Linked DNA regions of Homo sapiens: region 2 is reported to be linked to region 1. Evidence: microRNA targets listed by miRTarBase, many of them from high-throughput screens and not tested one by one. Region 1 holds a microRNA gene; the other region holds the end of a gene's coding sequence.

What was found. The annotated mature microRNA hsa-miR-4743-5p reads UGGCCGGAUGGGACAGGAGGCAU and lies in region 1 at 1,917-1,939, opposite strand. An mRNA with a match to its seed (bases 2 to 7 or 8) in the 3' UTR can be bound and repressed. Matches are read on the target gene's strand: a 7mer-m8 pairs with bases 2 to 8, a 7mer-A1 pairs with bases 2 to 7 and ends in A, and an 8mer does both.
Region 2: miRTarBase lists SH3BP4 as a target of hsa-miR-4743-5p. Seed matches in the 3' UTR shown: 7mer-A1 at 1,133-1,139.

The regions. Positions count from the first base shown.
Region 1 is chr18:48,669,131-48,672,540 of GRCh38, reverse strand. MIR4743 (microRNA 4743) reads right to left here and starts at 1,941; the gene lies at 1,873-1,941. CTIF (cap binding complex dependent translation initiation factor) reads right to left here. Exons shown (of 12, transcript NM_014772.3): 6 at 1,797-1,872.
Region 2 is chr2:235,053,121-235,056,530 of GRCh38, forward strand. It overlaps SH3BP4 (SH3 domain binding protein 4), which reads left to right. Exons shown (of 6, transcript NM_014521.3): 6 at 472-2,594. The coding sequence ends at 696. Among named protein-coding and RNA genes, the nearest start is that of SH3BP4, 100 kb to the left of the region's middle. RefSeq lists an enhancer at 1-116 and a silencer at 2,745-3,039.

The sequences.
Region 1 (3,410 bases):
TCCTCAGGCTAGAGGTGGGCTTTCCCTCCCATTTGGGGGCCTTCAGCTGGATGCACAATATCTCCTAGGTGAATCTGGAAGTAGGAGGATGTTTTTGGTGGTCACTATGCCTGCCCCTCTCCAGTGACGGCCATTCAGTGGCAGAGGCCAGGAGTCCTAAATATCCCACATTGCATTGGACACGTCCATACTATTAAGAGTTGTCCCCACCACATATGCTAATAGCTAGGCCAGCTGACCCTCAGGACCCAAGGCCAGACGAGTGAACCAGCCAGCCCTATTTATGAGGGGCTTTGAAGAACACTAGGAAAACTCAGATAAGTCATCCCATTGTGCTCTCACAGGACCGCAAATTCCTCAAACACCAAAAGTCTGTGTTTGGGGATCAAGAAGCCTGTCTACCTTGTCCTAAGGGTACCCATGTGAATTGTAGATACTCCAAGGAGCAGTCAAGCCAGGAGCATTATCAGCCAGGACTTTAAGTTTTCAACTCTTGCTGATAATCAGAATTTCCTACAATGCTTTAAAAATGCAGATTCTAGCTGGACACAGTGGCTTATTAAAAAAGCCCACAATGACCTTCGAGAGATAAAAACTACAATGTCTGAAATGAAAAATATACTGAATGGGATTAACAGTAGATTTGACACTGGAATAAAATATTAGTGAACTTGAAGAAATAGCAATAAAAGCTATCCAAAATGAAACACAGAGAGTAAAGAAAGACTTTAAAAAATCAGGCAGAGCTTTGGTGAGCCATGGGAAAAGATGAAGAAGCATAGAATACATACAATTGGAACCCCAGGGTTGAGGGAAAGTAGGAGGAATCGTGGCTGAAAATTTTCCAAATTTGATGAAACTATAAACCTACAGATCCAAGAAACTCAATAAATCCCAAGTGGGAGAAACATGAAGAAAACCACCACACCAAGGCACATCATAATCAAATAGATGAGGTCTTAACTGTATGCTCTATTGTCTCTCATTGATAGGCCCAAGGCATGAACAGAGAAGAAACAAAATGGCAAAGGCACCAGGAAGAGATGAATGGATATAGATAAAATAGCAGGAGAAGAATCAGGAGAGAAGGGAAGGGTGGCACAGTGGAGTGTGGTGGTAGGTCATGGTCACTGGCAGCGGCAGACTCAGTCACTGTGGAAGGTCCACTGCTTTTACACCCCTGCAGCAGGCCCAGTCACACTCCTGAGAGCAGCTAGACTCCTGCTGTTTCCACCAAAAGTCCAGCACTATAAGTATCTAGAGACCTGGATTCACTGAGTGAATCCTCTTTGTCCTGGAACCTGGCCTGATTCCAGGAAAGAGGCCCAATCAATAAAAAAAAGAGCAAGCATAGCAGACACCTGGAGGCCAGCAGGGCAAGTCCACTGTTCAAAAGCCTAAAGACAGCCCCAGCCACATTAGAATCTCTTCCAGGCCTGCCAGTCCCACCTGAACACACCACAGGACACTTCACCTGCAGAGAGGTTTCAGGCCAAGGGACAAAAACTTCCAAGTTCACTGAGTTGCCAGGGCATGGTCTATTTCATCTCTAGGGCACATCAGGCCTGCCAGCAGGGCCTGCAGCATCACCGAGTAGGCTGTCACACACACGATCACAATGGGACACCCTGGAGAATGGCAGGTAGCCAGCCCTGCCTATTACTACCATACAGGCGGTTACACTCCTTGCTGGAACAAGCAGCCAGAAGGAGTGCTTTGGTTAGGTCCTGTCCAGGAAGAGGATCAGGACTCCAGGGGTGGGGGTGGGCTGTTAGAGAGCCTGCCCCTGCACCTACCTGCCAGGCTGGAAGGACCTTCTCGATGTCATTCAGGTTGATGCCATCCCCATCTTCCAGCTTCCCTTTGCCACACCTGGACCAGAAAAGACAGAAAGGCATTGGAAAGATGGCTCATTCATGCCTCCTGTCCCATCCGGCCAGCAGGAGAGGAGGGACAGTCAGCAGATACCTGGTGCTGCCCACCCTCAAGCCCTGCAGGGGCTGTCCCACCTAGAGGAAACAGCCCTAGAGAAGCTGTGTGTGTGTGGGGGGGGGGTCCTCCCGTAATGCAACAGCCAACCTGGAGGGAGGTGGGAGAGGAACCAGAGTTCCCCTTGCTCCTTCCAGGCAGAGAAGCTAAGCTCCTTACTCATCACAACTCCTGTCAAAGCCCATCCACCTTGCCCCATTACACTGAACAGAAGATCAGTGGACAGAGACACCAAGCAACTTTCTCAAGGTCACATAGGCTGGCAGGGGCTAGCAGAAAACCCAATAGGGCTTCCTTCCTTTTTGGCTTGACTCTGGGTCAGTCCAGCAAGCCCACTCAGATAGTCTATGCTTTGTCTTCATGTCCTCTGTGAGTGGGCGTGCCCTCGGGCCAGAGAGGCTGGCCCCAACTCCCTGGCCAGAGGTCTGAATCTTTGGCATATTTAAGGGTGCAGATTCCGAAACCAGACTCCCAGGGTTTGAATCCCCGCTGCATCCCTTACCAACTGGGGACCCTGTACAAGTTGTTTAACCTCTCTGTACTCATTTCATCAAATGAGTTTCCTCATTTGTTAAATGAGGATAATAGTGTCTAACATCTTAAGGTGGCTGGAGGATTAAATTAATGAATGTATCTGGAGTGCTTAGATGCTTAGAACTGTGACAGCCCACAGTAAACGGTACATATATACACACATATATAGTCTAGCTTATATATATATATATATATATATATATATATATATATATATATATATAAATGTTTAGCTTGTTTGTTTATAAATGTGTGTGTGTATATTTCTTGTGTATGTATTATTATCTGTATTTACCATTAAATATATCTTAAACATACACACATATGTTTAATGGTAAATACTGGTAATAATAACAAAATTAAAATAAATAATGAAGTAAATATATTGCTACTACTATGACTACTTTCATTACCACTAATATTGTTGCTGTTGTTTAGGCAAAGAGGCAGGAGGGTGATTAATTAAGGACACAGATTCTGGAGCCAACCCAGCCTCATGCAAATTACTCAATTTCTGGGTCTCCTAGTTGCTTCATCTATTGAAGAGAAGATGGTAACAGTTCCTCCCTCTCTGGGTGGTGGCGAGTTTTAAATAAATGAGGCAAACACTTAGAACAGAGGCTGGAGCATGGCCGGTGCATAGTAAGTATTGTCAGTTACTATTATTACTGGTATTGACTGAGGAATGGTGAGAGATGTCCCATGAGTTGGGTCATTTTCCAGCTGCAGAGTTCATACGAATCTCACCTTTCAGAGTAACTAGTTCATTGTTTAAACATTTACCAAGCATCTCTTCTGTTTTGGGCCTTGTGAACCAAAAAAAAAATCAGTTTTGGTTCCTGCCCTCAGACAGTGGATGGCCCTTAGAACAAATCCTAAACTCCTCT
Region 2 (3,410 bases), not on the chromosome of region 1:
ATAACTTGGGCCAAAGCCGGTGTGGCCGGGCTCTTGCTCAGAGGTCCTTTGTGTTCTCGCATGTTTGTGGAGGGCACCCTAGTAAGCTTCCTGGAAGACGGTTCAGGCTTGCAAGATCCAGGAAGCAGGAAGTCCCAAGGACAAAGCTGTCTTTTATGAATGGGATGAATTTCCAAACAAATGGCACAGAGAGAAAGTGCCATAAAGATTGTAAGGAAAGAGAAGTCCTTTCTGTTTATTCATTTGTTGCGCACCTACTCTTGCACAAAGCCCTGCTTTTCCCTCTGGAATGTGCTGACCCTGGCCCCGAGATGGTTCCACTGTTTCTTCTGTGGGCTTGTCTCACTCGTGAAAGAGTGTCCCAAATAGTGACTACTGAAGCTGCACCAAGTAATAGGAACAAATCTCGTTCTGTCTCCTAATCTTTCTTCCTCTCTCCCTCCTTTTGTTTTTTACAACTCCACCTCCCAGGCCATGTGGAAGCCTGCGTATGACTTCTTACTCACCTGGAGCCATCAGATCGGGGACAGCTACCGGGATGTCATCCAGGAGCTGCACCTGGGCCTGGACAAGATGAAAAACCCCATCACCAAGCGCTGGAAGCACCTCACTGGGACTCTGATCTTGGTGAACTCCCTGGACGTTCTGAGAGCAGCCGCCTTCAGCCCTGCGGACCAGGACGACTTCGTGATTTGAATGGGTCCCCTCCCCTCCTGCTGCTCTGGAGTGCAAGCCCTCTTCTGCCCTGCGTGCCCTGCTGTCACCGCGGAGCTGAAGAGGGAGGAAGGGGCGGCTGCTCAGACAGATTTAGGGCCCGCCAGCTAGGCTACACCCATCATGCGCCGCCCTCCTCCATCGAGGGAGAGGCCTGAAGGGACTGCCTACTGCAGCTCGTTGCCAATCACATAGCTTTCTATTTGTTAAGTATAAATTTAAATTTAAAATCACTTTTTTAACGAATGGGGGGAAGGGATCTATGAGAAAGGTGGTATCTAATTTTTTTATGGACCATAAAGGTTTAAAAGAAAATAGGGGCACAGGCTGTTGAGGTTTTTATGTTGTTATAGACCTTTTTAAATTATGTTAGAGATGTATATAGGTATTTAAAGGTCACTGGGAGCGTTTCTGATTCCCGGCCACACTTTGCATTTCAACACTCAGCCCGGAAAGATGCTCGTTCGGTTGTTGGACCTCTTTCACTCCCTGCGTGTAAGAAGGTGAATCACGTGGGAAAAAGTGGCTTTTCAGTAAACGGGTACAGCTCATTCTTTCTGAGAAGGCCCCAGGTCCTGCTCCCTCCTCGGATTTGATTGTCTTCCGTGCTTTGCCTCACTCGTAGTAAATGACCATCCATAGAATATGTGAATCTTTGGTGAGCTTCAGTGGGCAGAGTGAAGTCCCGCATTAGCATTTAGGTGCCCTGAGCTGTTTCTGCCAATAGATTAGAAAGCAGCCATGAGTTGACAGTCTTTAGGGCCCCTGCCAGTGTGCAATTAGTCATTGACAAGAACAATGCCATTTGAGAGTGAGGTGGTCCCTGCTGCTACGAGGCCATTGTACTGTTTTTTCCTTGAGGTCAAAGCAGTGCTTCCCATAGAGTTTGCTGCCTCTTCTGTGGACAGGAAGAAAACTTCATGACCGAATCAGAGCCTTGGTGGCCACTGACTCTCGTGCTTATTGCAGATGCTGTGGTTGGCCTCACAAGCAACGCCTTATGCTGATGTGCAGAGGTGCCAGCTGCCATTTGCCAAACTCTGCATTTCATTTCATCTAAGGCTTAACCCCTCTTCCTTCCTGGTGTACCTGTGTCTCCTCGGAAGGAAGTCATAGTTTAGATGAAACCATTTTTTGTACAATGTAAAGATCATCTGAGCAAGATGAGCATTTTGTAAAAATGAAAATGTGACTCACATAAAATCAGGAACTTGACACAGTGTTGCATTAATAACTTTAGGGTGCAGACATGCTGTGTGAATCTCACAATGCGTCGTAGATGTCGCGTGTTGGAAGGGAGCAGGAGGAAGGACTGATACTGGCAAATCAGTAGAGTGAGGTGATCCTTAGCAACGTGCCAGGACACTTCCTGTGTGCCTGCAGTTGTCAGGGACCATTTGGGATCCCGAATCTCATTCTCTAAAACTGCTTTCTTGAAACATGTTACTTCCTTAGTATAATCAATGTATACTCCCTTACTGGCCTGAAACGTTGTATAGCTACTTATTCAGATACTGAAGACCAACGGACTGAAAAAAAGAACAAACATTAGCTATTTTATGCTGCAAGAACCAGGACACACAATTCGCCAATCATCCCACCATATAACCTTCGATTGTGCTTCTCAACTCCACCCCATAATTTCTCCCAGAGACCATCTATCACCTTTTCCCCAAAGAAGAAACAAAACCAGTTGCACCTTAAACCATGGATATTTTTTCCTCAGGGGCTTTAAATAGTTTCCTATGCAACGTGTCTTGTAGCACAAATAAAATTCTACAAAAGTTGCAGTAAATTTTATTTGGATATTTTAACCTGTTAAGTGTGTGTGTGTTTTCTGTACCCAACCAGACTTTAAATAAAACAAACATGAAACCTAATGTACGTATTTATACATACACCAATGGCTGCCTCCCCAAAATAGTCACCCCTAGATGACAGTAGGACAGCTGGTGTGGCAGGTGTCTATTTTCTTGCTATTCATTTAATTTGCTCTTGAAACACGAGTCACTCAGTCACCACTAACCAAATGGGAATTGGTGTTATACCAGGCACCCAAAGGAAAGCACATCGATGACTTGCTGTTTTCTGGGTCCCATGAATTGGCAACCCCAGTCCCGAAATAGAAAGTTTAGGATGGAGTCATTTCTGTGTGTCAGGTGTCAGCCTTGAAGTGCTGATTGTGGCAAACAAGGGCAGACCGTGCTTTAGGAAGACCGTGTTGTGGGGGAGAAAGGAGTGAAGGACTCCTAATGGAGACCAGCTCCACCTGGAGGTAGGGGGAGGAATGGGGCTAATGGAAATCTTTCTTGGGAACATGACTTTGATGAAAGGCTTGAAGGCTGAGTGGGAGCCAGCTAGACCACCAACAGACCAGCCCTGGGGACCAGTGTGTCGGCAGCATCGACGACACGGTACGTGGGGCAAGGAGAGGCTAAACCCTCCACGTGGCTGGGACTTGTGGAGTGAGCACAAGCCCTCTGTTACCTGGATGCTTTCCACCGCTTGTACCTGTGTTAATTCCACCATGCATCACCTACCAGCTGGGTCCTCATACCCATTTTGCAGTTAAGGACAGGGCTCAATGTGGTCCCATAATTTACACAGCCAATAAGAGAGGCAGGGACCTTAACTCAGGACTGCCGTAACAAAGTGCCCTGCATGGCTAAGGACAACAGAAATGTGTGCTGTCACCG